3 separate regions of the Homo sapiens genome follow, and regions 1 and 2 are each linked to region 3. The links come from fine-mapping of genetic effects on gene expression. A gene starts in region 3. Each other region holds a variant in brackets. All regions are shown on one strand. Distances are between the middles of the regions. Region 1 overlaps LINC02577 (long intergenic non-protein coding RNA 2577). Region 2 has its middle 75 kb from the start of PIK3CG. Region 3 holds the start of PIK3CG (phosphatidylinositol-4,5-bisphosphate 3-kinase catalytic subunit gamma).

Region 1 (7,108 bases), 36 kb after region 3:
AATAAGGGAATTGGGCAGGTGGGGATAACTAAAAAAGAGTGCATAAAAGAATGTCGTCCAAGTTGGCACCAGAGTGGGGGAGTTTTAAGGGGTTTTGAAGCTTGGCCGTCAATACCCACAACAGTTATGAGGGCAAGAGAAACGGGCCCTTGAAAAGAAGGTAATGTGGAGTGGGTAGACCCCGTATCTATTAAACAGGGGATGGACTTACCCTCCACTGTAGGAGTTATCCGAAGCTCGGCATCCGTGATGGTCCAGGGGGCTTCCGAGATGATTTGGCAGCGTCAGTCTTTAGCCACTAAGCCGAGGAGATCTGGGAAGGAATCAGCCAGGAGCCTTAGCTTTTTGCTCCAGTAGGTCTAGGAGCAGCTGTAATCCAAGTTGGATGGTCCGACTTCCAGTGGGGTCCTGCACAGACAGGACAAGGCTTAGGAGGAATCCCGGGCTGTGGGCATTCCGAGGCCCAGTGGCCAGGCTTCTGGCATTTGAAGCAAGGTCCACAAGGAGGTTTTGAAGGAGTGCCTGGAGGTTGCGGTTTTGTTGTTCTGAGGTTTTTGTGTACCATGGGTGTGGCTGGGATTTTTCTTATGGTGGAGGCAAGCAGTTGCAGCTTTGAAATATGTTGTCGCTTGGCTGCCTCTTCTCTGTTGTTAATCACCTTGAAGGTGAGGTTAATTAAATGTTGTTCTGGGGTTTGAGGGCCGGAATCTAGTTTTTGGAGTTTTTTCCTAATGTCTGGGTCCAGGACTGTAAAGTGTCTAAGGGTAGCCCCCAAGCGGGCCATGAACTGAGCTGGGTTCTTGTCCTTACCTTGGGTGGTTTCTTTAAGTTTTTCATAATTAACAGCTTTGTATGCTGCCTTTTTGAGCCCCTCAACTAGGCAAGAGACCATGTAATCTCGCCTAGCTATATCTTGGGAGCCTGTTTGGTATCCCCACTGGGGACCCTCCTGGGGAACTGCCCTGGTGCCTTCTTGGAGGCCTGGCTCATGATGCCGGCAGTCGTCAGCGTGAGATTGGCCTAGGTTATAAACTCTCTCTCACTCATCTGGGGAGAGGGTAGAAGTCAGGATGACATTTAAGTCACTCTAGATTAAATTGTAGGACTGAGTTAAATATTGGAATTCCTGTATATATTTAGTGGGGTCTGATGAGAAAGAGCCTAAATGCTGACTGATCTGGAAGAGGTCCGAAAAAGGCACATGTACCCTGACTATGCCTTCAGCTCCAGCCACCTCTCTAAGAGGAAATTGTTGGTCAGGTGGAAGAGAGCTAGTCACGGAACGAAACTGTAAGCCAGACCAGGTGTGAGGAGAGGAGGTAATAGAAGGGTTATAGTGTGGGGGAGTGGAGGCTGTGGAAGAATTGGGACATGATTCAGCCCGGCGAGGAGCGGCCGGGGGAGGAGGAGAGAGGTCAGAGGGGTCAGTGGAAAAGGAGGATTCAGAGGACTCTGAGCTTGGGGTGGAGACCGAAGGAGTGGACGGGAGAGAAAGAAGGAAAATCTGGGATAAGTCACATTGGGAGCAGAGACTAGGGAGAGAGCAAAGTGTAAAAAAGGCCTGGACGTAAGGCACCTCAGACCATTTGCCTAATTTTTGACAAAAATTATCTAGGTCTTGTAGGATAGACAAATAAAAATTACCATCCTCTGACCACTTGGAACTATTGTCAAGTTTGTATTGGGGCCCAGCGGTATTACAGAAGAATATAAGATGTTTAGGTTTTAGGTCAGGTGTTAGTTGAAGGGGTTTTAGGTTTTTAAGAACACAGGCTAAGGGGGAAGAGGGAGGAATGGATGGCAGAAGCTTGCCCATAGTGGGGAAGGTAAGTTTAAAGAGGAAGGTAGAGACACGGAGAAATGGAGGTAGGCAGCTGCCAGGCTTCTAGTAGGCATCCCTGACTGAGTCCTCGGCTGTAATGTGGGTGAGCAGCCAAAGCAGGTGTCCCTGCAATTGACCTGCCACCAATGGAGTGTGGGTGAATGATCAAGGCAGGCGTCCCCGCTATGATCAGACACCAAGGGAAGACTGTCTTCCCAAATCCATGACCGACATCGGAATTTTTGAGTTCGTGGATAAAATGTGTCTCCTTTGCCTCTACTAGAGAGGAAAGAGAACTGGAGTTGGAAGGATAGGGAGATTGAAGGGTAGCAAGAGAGGCTGGAGAAGAGAGTGAAGAGGTCACTTACCCAATTTGAAATTGGTGAGATGTTCCTTGGGCTGGTCTGAGGACCCGAGGTCGTAGGTGGATCTCCTCCCGGACTGAGGGTGAGGACAGGGGGCTGGTCTTCTGAAGGAGTCCCCTGTCTTGGGTTTCAGCACCAAATGTTACATGCGTCTGTGTGAGGAGACCACCAAACAGGCTTTGTGTGAGCAACGAGGCTCTTTATTCACTTGGGTGCAGGTGGGCTGAGTCCGAAAAAGGAGTCAGCAAAGGGAGATAGGGGTGGGGCAGTTCTATAGGATTTGGGTAGGTAGTGGAAAATTACAGTTAAAGGTGGTTATCTCTTATGGGCAGGGGCGGGGGTCTCAAGGGGCAGGGTGGGGAGATCATGAGACACATTGTCCAGGGGAGGAATGTCACGAGGTCGATTGATTAGTTAGGGTGGGGCAGGAACAAATCACAATGGTGGAATGTCATCAGTTAAGGCAGGAACTGACTGTTTCACTTCTTTTGTGGTTCTCCAGTTGCTCCAGACCATCTGGATGTATACATGCAAGTCACAGGGGTTGTGATGGCTTAGCTTGGGCTCAGAGGCCTGACAGTTTTAGAGCAGGAGAAAAAGTTTAGTAAAAAGTTTTAGAGCAGGAACGAAAGTAAAGTACAATTGGAAGAGGGCCATGCGGGCGACTTGAGAGATTCAAGTGCGCAGTTTGACCTTTGACTTGGGGTTTTATACCTTGGCATGCTTTGGTTGGGGGTGAGTGGGTGTTGCATCCCTTCTTTCCCTGATTCTTCCCTTGGGGTGGGCTGTCCGCATGTGCAGTGTTCTGCTAGCACTTGGGAGGGGCTGCAGGCCCAGTGTGTTTACTGAAATTGTGCACATGCTCACTTGTGGCGTTTTTCCCTTACCATTCAAATGCTTTTAGAGGGAGGTTATATACCAGTTGAACTCTGTCCTTTTGCCCATTAATGTGCATGCTTGAGCCCATATACCCGACTCCTGAGATCTTATTGGGAAGCTGCGGATCACCAGTTTCAGGTGTTTTTATCTATTGGGGGATTATCTTTCCTTGGTGCTGCTTATGTCTGACTACCTACTGTAACAATATCAAATCTGAAACTACATCAATGAACTTTCATAATCTGTTATATTAAAATTGATTGGTCTGTCTTGCACTTTGAATGGATTTTTTTATTCATGCATGATTTTGTAACATCATGCAATGGTCATTTAGAAAATATGGGTCCACTGAGTTATGCCAATTTTCCAAATGTTGACACATTTTATTATACAATATCCCAAAAAAATCACATTTCTTACTATCACCATCGATCTCATCAGAAGAATCTTGAAGTATTGGGAAGGTATCAAGTTCACAGTGACACAAGGTTTTTTAAGATTCGATTTTTGCTTGGAAGTATAATATTAATTACAAAAATGCTTCTTTTCAAGATAACGATAATACTTTGTTATGCAGCAGAAGTACTTTTTGCTTCATTAAGAATATTCTTATGAGAATTCAGCTTTTAAAAAATTGTGGTATGCAGTAGTAAGAATACAGTGATTACTAGTAAATTTGGTGCCACTGGCTTGATGTGTGCTAAGGCACCATCAATTATATCCATCAGTACTTTTTACCATCTATACAAATGTTAACACAGTGAAAAATACAAATAATACCTTGGTATTATTATGAAAACAGAATTTGTTGTTGTGGGCCCCCTGAAAGGGTTTTGGCACTCCCAGGAACTTTTAGACCACACGTTGAGAGCTGCTGTTCTATTACTCATGTAGAATAAAAACAAAAGTGAAATAAATTATTTAACATATTATTAAAATTTCTTTGCAGTCAGTGACTCCTTT[G/A]AAACATTTTTGGATTTAGGGTCAAAAATCCACACACTATTATATACCAATATTATACAAACTACTATTGCATATGTTGTGATTCTTCCATCTCTTAAAGCAATATCCAGTATCAAGTAGCAATGTGAAAATTGGTATCAGTTTCATGAATGTTATATCCAAACCTACAAATATATAATTTTGTAGTAATATGAATTGGTTAATATTGCTAAATATATATTCCTAAGGGGTCATATGGAACTATTGTGAATATCATATTAATTTGTGAGTACCCTAGAACCAAACTAATCCCTCTGGAATTGGAGTGCTAAGAGAAGCTTTGACATTATTGGGAAATGCTACTTAGTTAGCGTAAGAATCTGGGTGCATTCAAGCTGAGAAGAAAGATTTGAAAAATTAATTCATTTGTATTTTACTTAGATGTTTCCATCTGTCACATCTCCCCAGTCTCAAAGCAACAGCTCAGAAGTCAGCAGATACATCCCAGAAACCTTCAAGTCCTTCAGCTGGAATCAACTTTCATTTTGAGATCATAGGGCATACATAGTGCAAGACATGCAAAGAAGTGTTTTGCTGGGTCCTGAATGGTGTTAGTCATGAGAACAGATGTTTAGGATCACGGGTTATATTGTGATATTGTGTCAGTTCTGAACACCTGGTTCCCAGGAACAAAGGTGACCATGTGTTCTCTGATACATTTCTTTTCTAGTTTTGGTAACATTAGGGGCCTTTAAAGCATGGGGCCCAGCTTTTTGAAAGGAGAACAATAAAAAGTTAATTGATGTACAATGTTCTTTTATATAAGGATGAGGAAGCATTGGTATGTGTAGCATGGGGGATAATTAACCCAGAAGATAGAGGCACACTGAAGAAAACACACAATCTGATTCCAGTGCCAGCAGGTGAATACTACTGCCCAGGGGGTCCCAGAAATTGGTGGATCAGTCTTTGGACTGGTGCCTTTGTTTGGATTTATATGATGTTAGGGGACTCTGTTGACATCGACATTATTTACAGACATTATTAAATCTCCCCCGGCCACACACACTAAAAACACTATAAAACTTGGCATGGTAAAAGTAATCACCACAACTTATGAAAACTGCTTCCCATTTATGCATAATTACTATGCAGCAGAATGTTAAATAGACACGTCGCTGAAGGTGCCGAATTAGCTTTTCAGCAGTTTTGATAACACTAAACTCTGTTCACATACACACAACTAACATCATTTATTGCACATGTCCATGGTTGTCTGCATAAAATAGAGTATGTACTCTCTGTGACTATATTAAGTTCCCAATGTTTGTTTATCACCATAGATATTTTGCCACAAAATTTAGGACTAAGTGGTTGAGGATATATGTTTAGCTGTGGACCAAATCCATGATACCCTGGAAGTCCAATTGAGGCCCCTCAAGTGTAAAGGAACAGCCAGGGTGGAGTTACAGATGAGCTGAGGGATTTAGTAGAATAGTAAGATTTTATTATCTTGGGCGTTGCCAGCAAAAGTGACTATGGTGGCCATGGGTGTCCACCTAAGTCCACATAAGCAAAACCTGCTCTGTGAACAAAGTCTCTTGAGACTTAGACTCTAAAACCAGTTCATCAGAACTAATACCAGAGACAGCCATCCTGTGATGATGAAATTTTATTGTTATAGATAAGACCGTACAGGGCTTAACGAGAAATGCATGCAGATAAAAAGACACGACAGATTTTTAATGAGAATGCTTTTAATTAATATATTTTTTGGTGTTGAGGGTGACACAGGGAAGGATTTTACTAAAATAATAAGAGAGGGATGAAGTTGTGGAAACAAGACACTTGAGACTAGAAAGTGTAAAAATGGAGGACTTCACTTTTTCTCACTACAGCTAATTCCAGCTACTGCTTATAAAAGCTGTCATTCTTCATTTCTTTAAATGTTAATTATAATCATAAAGGCATTACTGGAAAATACCTTCTCCCTATATAGGTCCATATGGCAGGAAATGTTTCATAAGTGGTTGTCCTTTTTATTAGAGTTGATTTCAGAAAATTATTTTAACCTGTATTCAAAAATGCTGTCATTATCTGTTTCTATATCTGCCAGTGTATTTATTAGTCAGGGTTGTCCAGAGCAACAGAACCAATATGGTATAGCTATAGCTATAGATATAAGACAGGGAGTTACTGGGGGAATTGGCTCATGCTATTATAGAGGCTGAGAAGTCCCACTGCAGGCCACCTGCAAGCTGGTGGAGACCATGGAATGGTGATAGCATGGTTCAGTCCAAGTCCAAAAGTCCAGAAACCAGTGGTGTAATTTCCAGTCCAAGCCCAAAGTCCTAAGAACCCAGGAGGCCACTGGTGTAAGTCCTGGAATCCACAGGCTGAAGAACATGGAGTTCTAAAGTCTATGGGCAGAAGGAGAATATCCTAGCTCCAGGAGAGAAAGAGATTGAAAATCATCTTTCCTTTGCCGTTTTTTTTGTTGTTGTTCTATCCAGGTCCCCAGCTGATTGGATGGTGCCTGGCCACATCAAAGGTGGATCTTTCCCACTCACTCCACTGACTTACACACCAATCTCCTCTGGAAACACCTCATAGACACACCCAGAAATAAAGCTTTACCAGTTCGCCAGGTATTCCTGAATCCAGTCAAGTTGACACCTAAAATTAACTATCACAAGTCCACTGCTTGTCAACTTGGCACCCACACACGTCTCTGTAAACTGTACTTAGTCTCCAAATAAAGACAATAACAAGGTAATAGTCCTACCTAACCTGATACAATTATCCTGTGGCTCATGTTTGTAATCCCAGCACCTTGGGAAGGTGAGGCAGGCGGATCACCTGAGGTGGGGAGTTGGAGACCAGCCTGACCAACATGGAGAAACCCTGTTTCTACCAAAAATACAAAATTAGCCGGATGTGGTGGCGCATGCCTGTAATCCCAGCTACTCAGGAGGCTGAGACAGTAGAATCGCTTGAACCCAGGAGGCGGAGGTTGCAGTGAGCAGAGATCATGCCATTGCACGCCAGCCTGGGCAGCAAGAGTGAAACTCCGTCTCAAAAAACAAAACAAAACAAAACA
Region 2 (7,108 bases), 75 kb before region 3:
TTAATCTTATTAATGGCTATATAGTATTCTAGGGTATGGATTTTATTTAACTAGTGCCTTATTAAGGGGCATTTAGACTGTTTCCAGTATTTTGTTCTGATGAGCAATGTTTCAGTTAACAACTTTATACAGGCTGGGTGCGGTGGCTTACGCCTGTAGTCCCAGCACTTTGGGAGGCTGAGGTGGGTGGATCACCTGAGGTCAGCAGTTTGAGGCCAGCCTGGTCAACATGATGAAACCCTGCCTCTACAAAAAATACAAAAATTAGCCGGGCATGGTGACAGATGCCTGTAATCCCAGCTACTCAGAGGCTGAGACAGGAGAATTGCTTGAACCTGGGAGATGGAGGCTGCAATGAGCCAAGATCGTGCCACTGCACTCCAGCCTGGGCAACAGAGCGAGACTCCATCTCCAAAAAGAAAAACAAAACAACAACAAAAAACAACTTTGTACATAGTCATGCATTTTTGACTAAGTATCTACAAATAAAATTGTTAGGTAAAAGGGAATGTACCTTCCTAATTGAAAATACATGATCAGACCGATGATGGTGGCTCACACCTGTAATCCCAGCACTTTGGGAGGCCAAGGCAGGAGGATTGCTTGAGGCCAGGAAATTAGACCAGCCTGAGCCTGAACAACACTGCAAGATCCCATCTCTACAGGAACATTTTTTAAAAATTAATTGGGAATGGTGGTGCATGCCTGTAGTCCTAGCTACTTGGTTGAGGTGGAATATCACTTGAGCCCATGAGTTTGAGGCAGCCATGAGCTATGATTGCATCACTGCATTGTAGCTCTGTATAAGAGACAGAATACTACCCTGTCTCTTAAAAAAAAATGTGGGATAGGGGCTGGGCGCGGTGGCTCACGCCTGTAATCCCAGCACTTTGGGAGTCCGAGGCAGGTGGATCACGAAGTCAGGAGATTGAGACTATCCTGGCTAACATGGTGAAACCCCATCTCTACTAAAAATACAAAAAATTAGCCAGGCAAGGTGGCGGGTGCCTGTAGTCCCAGCTACTGGGCTACTGGGGAGGCTGAGCCAGGAGAATGGTGTGAACCCAGGAGGCGGAGCTTGCAGTGAGCTGAGATTGTGCCACTGCACTCCAGCCTGGGCAACAGAGCAAGACTCTATCTCAAAAAAAAAAAAAATGTGGGCCAGGCGTGGTGGCTCATGCCTGTAATCCCAGCACTTTGGGAGGCCGAGGCAGGTGGATCACGAGGTCAGGAGATGGAGACCATCCTGATTGACGTGGTGAAACCCCATCTCTACTAATAATACAAAAATTAGCTGGGTGTGGTGGTGGGCACCTGTAGTCCCAGCTACTCTGGAGGCTGAGGCATGAGAATCGCTTGAACCCAGGAGGCGGAGGTTGCAGTGAGCTGAGATCATACCACTGCACTCCAGCCTGGCAACAGAGCAAGACTCTATCTTAAAAAAAAAAAAAAGTATACGAACACACACATAAATGTGTACACACATACACATATATATGGATTTGTATATATATGTATATATAACCAAATTGCCACTGCACCAATCTATGTTCCCACCTACAGTAAATCAAACTGTTTATCCCATATCCTCAGCAACATTGATGATTGTGATTTAAGTGTTAGTTAATCTGGTAGTTGAAAAGTGATATTTAATTGTTCTTTAAAATTTACATTTATTTAATAGTAAAGAAATAGAATATTTCTCATATTTGTTAGTCATTTATATGTCTTTTTTCCATTTTTCTCGTTGAAGGGTCAAGTCTTTTCTTACTGATTTTTTTTTTTTTTTTTTTTTTGAGACGGAGTCTTGTTTTGTCGCCCAGGCTGGAGTGCAGTGGTGCAATTTCGGCTCACTCTAACCTCTGCCTCCTGGGTTCACGTGATTCTCCTGCCTCAGCCTCCTGAGCAGCTGGGATTACAGGCGTGCACCACCACCGTGCCCAGCTAATTTTTTGTATTTTTAGTAGAGACAGCATTTTACCATGTTGGCCAGGCTGGTCTCAAACTCCTGACCTCAGGTGATCCACCCATCTCAGCCTCCCAAACTGCTGGGATTACCAGTGTGAGCCACCACGCCCGGCCACTTACTTTTTTTTTTTTTTTTTTTAGACAGAGGCTCACTCTGTTGCCCAGGCTGGAGTGCAGTGGTATGATCTCGGCTCACTGCAACCTCTGCCTCCTAGGTTCAAGCGATTTTCATGCGTCAGCCTCCTGAGTAGCTGGGATTACAGACACCTGCCACCACGCCTGGCTAATTTTTTGTATTTTTAGTAGAGAAGGGGTTTCACCATCTTGGCTAGGCTGGTCTTGAGCTCCTGACCTTGTGATCCACCTGCCTCAGCCTCCCAAAGTGCTGGGATTACAGGCGTGAGCCACTGCGCCTGACCTTCCACTTACTATTTTTAATTGCTGTTTGTATTTTATGTAAATTAGTCCCTAGACTTTAATTTGTGTTGCAAATATTTCCCCCTGTTTGCTAACTAAAAAATATTTAAAAGGGTCATTAGATTTTCTGGACAGTCAAACTGATCAGTGAGCTATATCTAGTTGGCCTATCAAAGACTAAACTTTCAGGGTTAATAAAAAGTGGGGGCCAGATGCAGTAGCTCATGCCTGTAATACCAGCACTTTGGGAGGCTGAGGTGGGCAAATCACTTGAGTTCCGGAGTTTGAGACCAGCCTGGGCAACATGATGAAACCTATCTCTACAAAAAATAAAAAAAATTAGCTGGGTGTAGTGGCTTGTACCTGTAGTTCTAGCTACTTGGGAGGCCAAGGTGAGAGGATCTCCTGAGCCCAGGAGGTTGAGGCTGCAGTAAACCGTGATTGTGCCACTGCACTCCAGTCTGGGCAATACAGTGAGACCCTGTCTCAAAAAAAAAAAAAAAGTAAAATGAGTATGATGTTAGGGTAAGTAGCTGAAGCTTTAGAGGAAAGTGGGAAAATATAATGGATCTGACGTTGTTGAAAATAGATGGCATTCACAGCTAGAGGATTAAGGCATTTATTTAGAATAATATACAATTGTGTTCTACAAGAAAATGTTTTTCTGTAATTGACACAGAGAAACCTCATTGTTTGCCTTAAGAGAACACTTCATTAATCCTGTGGTGCAGAAAGGAAGTTGGAATCTTGCATTTATCTGTGAGTGTCTCAACTCTTTATGTATAACATTGGTGGATTTTAGGGTGTTGATATTACGTGTGTTTTTGGGAGAGGTATTTAAAGAAAAATCCAACTGTTGAGGGAATCTAAAAACACCCAGATTTTTTTTTTTTTTTTTTTTTTTGAGACGGAGTCTCACTCTGTTGTCTAGGCTGGAGTGTAGTGGCGCGATCTAGGCTCACTGCAAGCTCCACCTCCCGGGTTCACGCCATTCTCTTGCCTCAGCCTCCCAAGTAGCTGGGACTACAGGTGCCCACCACCACACCCGGCTAATTTTTTGTAATTTTAGTAGAGACGGGGTTTCACTGTGTTAGCCAGGATGGTCTTGATCTCTTGACCTCGTGATCTACCCGCCTTGGCCTCCCAAAGTGGCTGGGATTACAGGCGTGAGCCACCGTGCCCGGCCAAAACACCCAGATGTTTTAAGATCATAAAGAATTAAATAATTTTCCAAGAGACTCTCTGGTGTATTTTCCAAGCTTCCTCTGCTTTTCTGGCTTTTCATTGTTCTTTCTTTTGGAGGACACAAATCTCCATTGAAAAGA[C/T]ATTTAGGGCTTCAATATTGTTTTAACTGGGTCAGTGAACAGGAAGAAATGATCTGTAACAGTGAGTAGAAGACCTCGTATAGGGATGATTGCTTGATAATTGCATTTTGTTCAAATTCTTAGGAGCTACTGGGAATATTAAAAATGAAAAAAAGCTTTGGGAAATCATCAACTAAATACCAGTGCTAATGGAGGATATTTGTCACAGACTGTGATATAGCAAAGTTATTTGTAGCCCGGCGTGGTAGCTCACACCTGTAATCCCGGCACTCTGGGAGACTGAGGTGGGCAGGTTGCTTGAGCCCAGTAGTTTAAGACCAACCTGGACAACATGGCGAAACCCTATTTCTACAAAAGTACCAAAAATTAGCTGGGCCTGGTGACGTGTGCCTGTAGTCCCAGCTACTTGGGAGGCTGAGGTGGAAGGATTGCTTGAGCCCAGGAAGTCAAGGCTGCAGTGAGCCACGATAGCAGCACCGCACCATGGCACTCCAGCCTGGGTGACAGAGTGAGACTCTAAAACAAACAAACAGATAAACAACCCAATCAACAAACCAATCAGCCAAACAAACAAAAACACCAAAAAACAAAGTCATTTGTGCCCTTTATCCGCTCATTAGACTAAGATCTTTGGGAGCTGTATCTGAATCACTTCTTAATCCCCACAGTACTGCATATAATATTCAGTAATCATTGTGCCCAAATGAAATTTCATTTAAAAACACAAATTTCACCATCTTAAGGAAACTAGAATCCCGTCAGCATGGAAATATGAAAAAAGCGCAAATTAAATATAAGTGGGGAAAAGCCTATCTTAGTGTGCTGAGCTCTTATTGCATTAAAATAATTCAATTATTCCATTTTCCATTATTGAACTTTTCTAGATAGAGTGATATCTCAGCCAGAACATCCTAGAAGAGCTTTCGAGACAATCTAATCAAAAGTTCGGCCTGAGAGCAGGCTACCATCTAAATATGCTGGGTAGAAGAGAGAAAAACTGATAGAACCCCGATCTAAATTTAAATTTTAAAATTTAAAATCACATATTAGTGTTTCTCCTCCAGTCTGCTCTTCTTTCTATCTTCCTAGAGAGCTTCTCTTACCCAGGGAAAGCTATCTTTGTAGCCCTTTTCTTCACACCCTCCAGTGACTGGTTTCAGATTTTTAGAAGGCTGTGGTATTTATTTATTTACTATACTTTAAGTTCTAGGGTACATGTGTACAACATGCAGGTTTGTTACATATGTACACACGTGCCATGTTGGTGTGCTGCACCCATTAACTCGTCATTTACATTAGGTGTATATCCTAATGCTATCCCTCCCCACTCCCCCGACCCCATGACAGACCCCGGTGTGTGATGTTCCCCTTCCTGTGTCCAAGTGTTCTCATTGTTCAATTCTCACCTATGAGTGAGAACATGCGGTGTTTGGTTTTTTGTCCTTGCGATAGTTTACTGAGAATGATGGTTTCCAGCTTCATCCGTGTCCCTACAAAGGACATGATGAACTCATCCTTTTTTATGGCTGCATAGTATTTCATGGTATATATGTGCACATATTCTTAACCCAGTCTATCATCGATGAACATTTGGGTTGGTTCCAAGTCTTTGCTATTGTGAATAGTGCTGCAATAAACATACGTGGTCATGTGTCTTTATAGCAGCATGATTTATAATCCTTTGGGTATACACCCAGTAATGGGATGGCTGGGTCAAATGGTATTTCTAGTTCCAGATCCTTGAGGAATTGCCACACTGTCTTCCACAATGGTTGAACTAGCTTACAGTCCCACCAACAGTGTAAAAGTGTTCCTCTTTCTCCACATCCTCTCCAGCACCTGTTGTTTCCTGACTTTTTAATGATCGCCATTCTAACTGGTGTGAGATGGTATCTCATTGTGGTTTTGATTTGCATTTCTCTGATGGCTAGTGATGATGAGCATTTCTTCATGTGTCTGTTGGCTGCATAAATGTCTTCTTTTGAGAAGCGTCTGTTCATATCCTTCGCCCAGTTTTTGATGGGGTTGTTTGATTTTTTTCTTGTAAATTTGTTTAAGTTCTTTGTAGATTCTGGATATTAGCCCTTTGTCAGATGGAAAGATTGCAAAAATTTTCTCCCAATCTATAGGTTGCCTGTTCACTCTGCTGGTAGTTTCTTTTGCTGTGCAGAAGCTCTTTAGCTTAATTAAATTCCATTTGTCAATTTTGGCTTTTGTTGCCATTGCTTTTGGTGTTTTAGACATGAAGTCCTTACCCATGCCTATGTCCTGAATGGTAATAGCTAGGTTTTCTTCTAGGGTTTTTATGGTTTTAGGTCTAACATGTAAGTCTTTAATCCATCTTGAATTAATTTTTGTATAAGGGGTAAAGAAGGGGTCTAGTTTCAGTTTTCTACATATGGCTAGCCAGTTATCCCAGCATCATTTATTAAATAGGGAATCCTTTCCCCATTGCTTGTTTTTGTCAGGTTTGTCAAAGATCAGATGGTTGTAGATGTGTGGTATTATTTCTGAGGGCTCTGTTCTGTTCCATTGGTCTATATCTCTGTTTTGGTACCAGTACCATGCTGTTTTGGTTACTGTAGGAAAGCTGTGGTATTTAAAGGCTGGCTGCAGTGACTCATGCCTGTAATCCCAGCACTCTGGGAGGCCAAGGTGGGCGGATCACGAGGTCAAGAGATTGAGACCATCCTGGCCAACATGGTGAAACCCCATCTCTACTAAAAATACAAAAATTAGATGGGCGTGGTGGTGGGCTCCTGTAGTCCCAGCTACTCGGGAGGCTGGGGCAGGAGAATCCTTGAACTGGGGAGGCGGAGGTTGCAGTGAGCTGAGATCACGCCACTGCACACCAGCCTGGCGACAGAGTGAGACTCTGTCTCAAAAAAAAAAAAAAGTCTGTGGTATTTAAAAATATGCTGGTACCAAAGTGCTAAAGGCATCAGTCAAAAAGAAGTTAATGCCTTCAATTTAAGGCACATAAAAGCACCCGTGGACAGAAGAAAAAGACCTTTTGGGTTTGGCAATATTGTAAAATAGTAATCAATATCATACTTTTTTTTTTGAGATAGAGTCCTGCTCTGTCATCCAGGCTGGAGTGCAGTGGCATGATCTTGGCTCACTGCAACCTCCACCTCCCAGGTTCAAGCAGTTCTCCTGTCTCAGCCTCCTGAATAGCCAGGGCTACAGGTGTGCATCACCATACCTGGTTAGTGTTTGTATTTTTAGTAGAGACAGAGTTTCACCATGTTGGCCAAGCTGGTCTCGAACTCCTGACGTCAGTTGATCCACCCACCTTGGCCTCTCAAAGTGCTGGGATTACAGGTGTGAACCACCGCATCCCATCCGGCCTATCATACCATTTTTGAAAAAGATGCTGTTGATATTGAGCAATACCT
Region 3 (6,841 bases):
TCCTCGGAGGGCGGGTGCCGCTGCACCAGGTGGATCTGGCCCGGGCTCCGGTGCGTGGCCTTCCAGTAGCGCAGGCAGTCCAGAGTCTGCACCACCTGGTACTTGTCGTAGATCTCGTACCACTGCCCCTTCTTCTGATAGAGCAGGAGGAAGTGATGCGGTCCCAGCCGGTGGTAGAAGTCCGCCGCCACGCTGGTCTCCAGCGCTCGCAGCCACACCTGGGCCTTCATCTGCTCCACGTTGCCGTGGCCGGCCACGTGCAGCAGCGCCGTTTCGGGGCTCTTGCATTTGCGCTGGCTGGTGGGCAGCACGAACTCGATGGGGATGAGCTCCATGGAGGACAGGCTGGCCGCAGCACTGCGCGGCTTCATCCTCCGGCGCCTTCGGCAGTTGTCCTCTCTCAGCACCACGGGCTGTTTATAGTTCTCCAGCTCCATGCCCTATGCGACCTGGGAGCGGAGGGACACAGGGATTTGTCACAAGAAAGGCACTTTCCCCTTATATTTTCTGGTGAGATGAGGGAAGAGGAGGTATAGGCGGCGTACATGTGCACAGGGACCCAGAGGGACCAAGTATTTTAAACTGGAAGCACTACAGCCCTTCAGAGCGTGGGCTTTGGAGTCGGGCCGGTGAGTCCTGGCCCAGCCACTTACTTTCTGGGTGATTTGGGCTGCTTAATCTCTGAGCCTGTTTCTCATCTCTCAAACTGGTTAGTAATGAATGCCCCAGAGGGAGAGTTAAATAAAGTAATACTTGTTCAATATGGGTGACAGGTATATGGGGGCTTATTGGTCGTTCTACTTTTGTATACTTTGAAAATTTTAAAGAGGTAGGTAAAACACTCATCCAGCACAGCGCATGACACATTATAATGGCTCAGAATGGACATTGTTCTTAAACATACTGAAACATATAGATTACTAAAATAGTACAGTTAAGGTTCAAGTCCCAGTTTACAAGGTGCAACACGAGATGCCAAAAAATCTCACTTTGAAAACAGGCCTTTAACTTACTTCCTCTTTGTTAAGTCTCACACTTCTTGGAACCCAGACACCTCACCCAGCCTTGCTTCACGTTGCCTGTTTTCAAACTGCCTGGACCTAGGATCTACTCCCTAATAAATTTCCTGCCTCTTGGTTTCATTTTTTCTTTCTAATTAGGAAAGCAAGTCATTTCATTTGTAAAGCTAAAACATATCGGAATTAGTAAAGTTACAGTCAAAACCATTTGCAGATATGTAAAATTTTGAATCATGGAATTTGTCAGCATTCTGGCTGTCACTGCTATATTAGGGCAGTATCTTAGAAGAGTCACCCAAGGCTGTACTCTCCCAATAGGAACATTTAGGTAATTTTAACATTGTTTAATTAATTAATTAAAATTCATTTGATCTGTCTCTACTTAATAATGGAGGAGCTACAGGATGGAAGGCAGGATTTCTGGACTCCAGTGACCTTCTGTTAAGACCCCCAATCATTTAACTTCTTTTTTGCTCTAATATTTTCATTTTTGTAACACAAATTCACAAATTTATTCTCATTAACCTACTCACTCTTTCCACAAAATTCAGTAAGTACCTACCCTTCACAAAGCACTTATGTATAAATAGGACATACTGCAATAGGAAATCCTTCAAATAATAATTGAAATTTGAAAGGTATTAACACTGAAAGATTAGGTATTTTGCTTTCAATGTTTAGTATCACTACATTGTAATACATTATATTCTAAACGAATCAATTATTGAAACAAAAAATTAATGTTTCAGAAAATATCGTTTACTCTCTTAAATAACTAATGTTAGACTTAAAACTACATTATTTCCTTAAGAAATAGTGGAGCATTTGATGTATACCAAAAAGGAGAGCTTGATAAGAAGATAAGAAAGACAAATTTCATTTGATCCAAACTTATGTTCAAATCTTGGCTTAACTTTTAAAACCAATATTCCCTCTCTTAAAATATGAAGTTATACTTAGTAAGTGAAACCAACTGTCCCAAAGAACTGTCTCTTGTGGCTTAAAACATTCATTTTGGTCTTTTGCTACATTATAGAATAACTAACAAAGAAGAGAACTGTAAGATACATTGATATTGACACTAACTTGAAATAAAACATGTCCAAATTTAGGCAGCATATAAATACACAGCAATAACTTCTGCCTCAGTGATACCAAACGATCTTATAAGATGCAGAGGAAAACAGGCTGACTAATACTCACTGGTTTCCTTCATGGTTGAGGCTATGAAGCTTTCCCCTTTTATGAGAAGATGTTGGAAACACTGTAAGTACAGTAATCTTGAAGCATGCACTTGTAGGAATATGAAGCCTGGCTGCCGTGCCCTCCCTTTTCCTCCCAAAACAAAAACAAAAATGTGATGCACCTGCAAAACTATTGCCGGAACGTTGTAGATATCCACAATACAGGTTGGACTAGACAATGAAACACAGACATTCGGTGGTAGTATCATCTCAAGAACCGACAACAGTTTCAGATAATCTAGCCGAGAAGGAAGTGCCACTATTCCGAGTCAGACCCCACAAAGAGCAAAAAATAGAAGGAAGCAATACCTGATAAAGCAGCGGAGGCGATGATGCTGAAGGATCATTTGTTTAATTTTTGAAAACAAAACAAATTCAAACCTACCCAGTGTGCGTCTAAATTCTTCCGCTTTTCTGGGGCTCCCTTCATATCCAGATGCAGAGGAAGTGTTGCAGTTACCAGGAAGGAAGTTTTAACCAAGTTGATTATACGTGTGATTGCTCATTTTAAAAGTGTCAGAAATGCATTTCCTGTTTTAGCATAGAGAGGGTAGGAGTATGAGACTGAGCAATGTTTACCATGGTTTTTCTTTTCTTTTTTTTTTCTCTTTGAACTAATTTTTCAAAAATTGTGATACTGAGACAAAATGACATAAATCCAAACCAAAATTACCCATTATGAGACATAAACATATGAAATATCTTTGTAGCTAGTTCTAAGAGCCACAGTATTAGGTATCCTATTAGGAAGACTTTTACCAGTCAAATTAAACTCATTCCCCTCCTGGGAATTCAAAAGAATCCTTGTTCGCACATGCTAACTGAGGGGTGGGGGAAGAGAAACCTAGTCATCTTGAGGACTAAGTTATCAAGCTGAAAATTTTTAAAGGCATGGTCTGCAAGCTCACTTCCTTAGCTTGGTGAGAGCTTTCTCTATTTTTTCAGAGCATTTGGGGCCTAAAATATCACTGGCTCAAACTGAAAGCACTGCAGCATGTGCATGTGTGTATATAAATGTGACATACTGCAGTAAGTAACCCTTCAAATAATGGTTGAAATGCTAAAAGTATTAAAATTGAAAGATGAATAAAAAGGTATTTTGATTTTAATACTAAGTACCACTACATTGTAACACATTATATTCCAAACAAGGATCAACTATTGAAACAAAAATTAATGCTTCAGAAAATATCCTGTGTTGAGGATGGAGCCTTACTGTCAGCAATGACTGATTAATTAACTGTAGACAAAACAGAAGGAGGTTGCCTGTTATCATGGGGAAATTGGGGAGCTGAACACTGTTACAGCATCAGGCAGATTCCATCCTGGGAGGTGGCCCCTGATTCCTATGGGAGTAGAGAATGCATAGAAAAGCCATCCTGAATCATTTTTAGAGTAGCGTTGTATCTTCCAGGTGACCTCAGTTCTTTCTAGAACCTCCAAGCATCCTGAACCAGCGCCCCCTCCCTCCATCTCAGAATTCCCTATGCTAGAGTTCATCCTCCAATCGGGGTGTTGAGGGACTCCAGCTGAGCTTCAAGGGCAGCAGATAGAATGGAGTTGACCTCACAAGTCTCTTGGAGGTATGTAATTAAGAGTTCCTCTGAATTACTCTGATATTGAGATAAATGATTGATTTGACTTATTTCCTTTTACATATGCCTCTTGGGTTTTAACTTTTAAATAGCACTCTAATAGTTGACATCAGCAGGCAAATAATTTAATTCAAAGGCTGCCTCCCAAATATTTAGAGGGGTCTTATCAGCTTCTCAAAGTATATTCCTATATAGGAATACTCCCTTAGGAGGCTGGCAGCTTTAGAAGCACCAAGGCTAGCTTTCTTGGTTGGTCCTGAGGGAAGATCAACACACTGTAGCCACCAAGCCATGATGTGAGAGCTTGCCAAGCTGTGTTTTACCCAGAGTGTGTGGGAGGGTTCCTGGGGGTGGGTGGAGTGGGAGGAGGTTTGAGGGTGGGAGGGCTGACCTCAGAGGGACCATGAGCTTGGCCAGCCCTGTTCCCCAGACCATTCAATAGATCCCTTCCCTGTCCTGGCTCAGTCACTTCCAGGGGGCCAAGTCCCAATCTGGCACTGCACATACACACACACATGCCACATTATTCCAGAAACACGAGACTCAGCCTCTTGGCCCTGCCTGCTTCTGAAGGAACTATTAAGCTAAGTTTGATTAGGCAAAGGATTTTCTGTTTTATGACTAAACTGGCAAATATGTCAGGTTTATTGGTGGCTTGAGATTAAAAGTACCCTGCTCTTCCCCAAATCTTAATATAGCCACTAAAATTTGACTATCTGTAGTAAATGTTCCCAGTAAGAAGTAATGGCAAAGATTTCCTTCCTCTGTGGATACTTCCTCCGTGTAGAGGCATCCTTTACGAGTAAGAATATTTTATATCCCCAGAATATTTAGAAGACCTTCAGTCCTCATTAATATCCCATTTTAATAATATTTTTCCCTTCTGTGAATCTGTGGACACAGAAATCATTTTGGTTGGGAAAAAAAACACAATCAAAGGCTCTGACCTTCTATATCATATCAGTGGTCACAGCAATGACAAGATAGAACAGTTTAGAAAATAAGAACACAGTAGGAAGTATCAGTGATCAATAGACATTAAAAATTATTTGTTTTGAGGAAGGCTCTTTCCAACAGCCTTCAGAGAGATTATTTATGGTCTACTTGGAGAGACAGAACATGCAGAGGAAAGAATAACATGTGCAATGCGTTAGCATATGCAGTCCAAGCGGTTTAATTGTGTGATGTAACTTTCATTATGCAAGCCAACAGTTTACTGGAGGAGTTCACTTTGGGTGAGATTTGAAAATTTTTGTTTTAAATGTGCAGGGGAAGGTCCAGGATTCAAGGCAAGAGGAATCACAGGGGCAAGTCCTCAAGCCAGAAGGCATCTGTGGGACAGTGAACAGATCAGTTCACTGAAATGGAGAGTCTGAGAAAGATAGCAGTGTGAGAGACAGGGAGAGACATGGCCAGACAAGTGTGTGCTTCCCATACGTATTTCATGTGTTGCCACATGTAAATAGTGGTGACATGTGTATGGCACACTGGGGTGAACTGAGGAAGCTCCTCAAAGCGTGAGACAACGGGTGCATCCCCAAGGACCTCACCGCTTTGGGCATACTGGCTGGGAACTCTGTTATTGGTTATTTACTGTTGGAGTAGCTATGTCACTCAGACTCGAGGGAATCTTTCATCTTGAAAAAACATGATCATCTTGTCATATTTTTTTTTAGCTCAGCTTCAGATGATTTATACATTGTGATAAAAATGCAAAAAGGCATTTTAATCTAATCTGACAGTTTAGTTCACCTTCATACCTTGCTTTGTTGTCCGAGCACAAAGGCAAACCTTTATGAAGCTGTGCCTGATATTTTTTGGTCTGTATTTGGTAAGATTTAAGAGAAGCATCCTGGTATTGTAGAAACACACACATTCATGAGACCTAGGTTTATTTCTGCACATTCTTTAGGCCTCATATATGCCCCTTCATTTCTTTTGGCTTCCTAATCTACCAAATGATAACAACCACCCTACATATTTCACAGGAAGTTGTTATAAATCTTCAGTTTTCAATGGAACAAAAACTTATCTCACCGTACTATGTAAGATATTATGTTAGATGACTCTAGAAGGTACAGAATTCCAGGTGTCAAACACCAACACGACACACAGAGGAAGAAGAGTCCATGCCATCTTGTGTGTTTCTTTTTCAGAGAGAGGAAGACTTTCCCAAAGGTCTTCTGGGTCCCCTTATGTCTCTGGCCAGAATTGTGGCAAGGGCGCATTGATACCTCAGCCAATCAATAGGAAAGGGGATAGAATTATGTGAATGGTTTAAGCTAATCAGAATTTGTCCCCTGAGTTCTGGCTGGCTAGAGAGTGGTGGACACCAGAACCAAATGTCAGGGCTCTGACTGTAAGGACAAATGGGATTAGGGAGGATTGTAGGAGACTGTACCACAGTCTTGATGCCATTAGGAATGTAGGCTATTATTATGCCATGTGGGTGGAGGGGAGCCACTTCAGGTTCTGAGAAAAGAAGCTATGGGAAATCAGTCACAGTCAACACAACTCCATGGACCTACAGCCAGATCTAGGTCCCTATGGGACCTTCCACTTTGTTCTCCATTCTTAGTATCAGAAACTGACCATTGAGCACATTTTTCTGTTTCCTTGTTTAGTTAAACTTTGACAATACATAGTAGTAAGCACTTCACAAATTTCTGGAAAAGATTTTTCTATAAATTGGTTTTTAAAAATCCAAAATCTTTGCGTGATACTTTATTTTTATTTTATTTTTTATTTTTGAGACAGAGTCTAGCTCTGTCTCCCAGGCTGGAGTGCGGTGGTGTGATCTCAACTCACTGTAACCTCCACTTGCCAGGTTCAAGTGATTCTCCTGCCTCAGCCTCCCGAGTAGCTGGGATTATAGGCATGCGCCACCATGCCCAACTAATTTTTGTATTTTTAGTATAGACTGGGTTTCACCACATTGGCCAGCCTGGTCTTGAACTTCTGACCTCAAGTTATCCACCTGCCA

What was found. PIP is the estimated chance that this variant, and not a neighbour inherited with it, causes the effect.
Region 1: its variant is the best candidate, but not a certain one, in a credible set for the expression of PIK3CG in whole blood (TOPMed, PIP 0.58).
Region 2: its variant is the best candidate, but not a certain one, in a credible set for the expression of PIK3CG in whole blood (TOPMed, PIP 0.77).

The regions. Positions count from the first base shown.
Region 1 is chr7:106,825,293-106,832,400 of GRCh38, reverse strand. LINC02577 (long intergenic non-protein coding RNA 2577) reads right to left here. Exons shown (of 5, transcript NR_170304.1): 3 at 2,191-2,339; 4 at 212-408. Among named protein-coding and RNA genes, the nearest start is that of PIK3CG, 36 kb to the left of the region's middle. The variant G/A (reference allele first, on the strand shown) is at 4,030.
Region 2 is chr7:106,936,432-106,943,539 of GRCh38, reverse strand. No RefSeq gene overlaps it. Among named protein-coding and RNA genes, the nearest start is that of PIK3CG, 75 kb to the right of the region's middle. The variant C/T (reference allele first, on the strand shown) is at 3,711.
Region 3 is chr7:106,861,158-106,867,998 of GRCh38, reverse strand. PIK3CG (phosphatidylinositol-4,5-bisphosphate 3-kinase catalytic subunit gamma) reads right to left here and starts at 2,717. Exons shown (of 11, transcript NM_001282426.2): 1 at 2,573-2,717; 2 at 1-449. The coding sequence starts at 437. RefSeq lists an enhancer at 2,546-2,645 and a silencer at 5,141-5,435.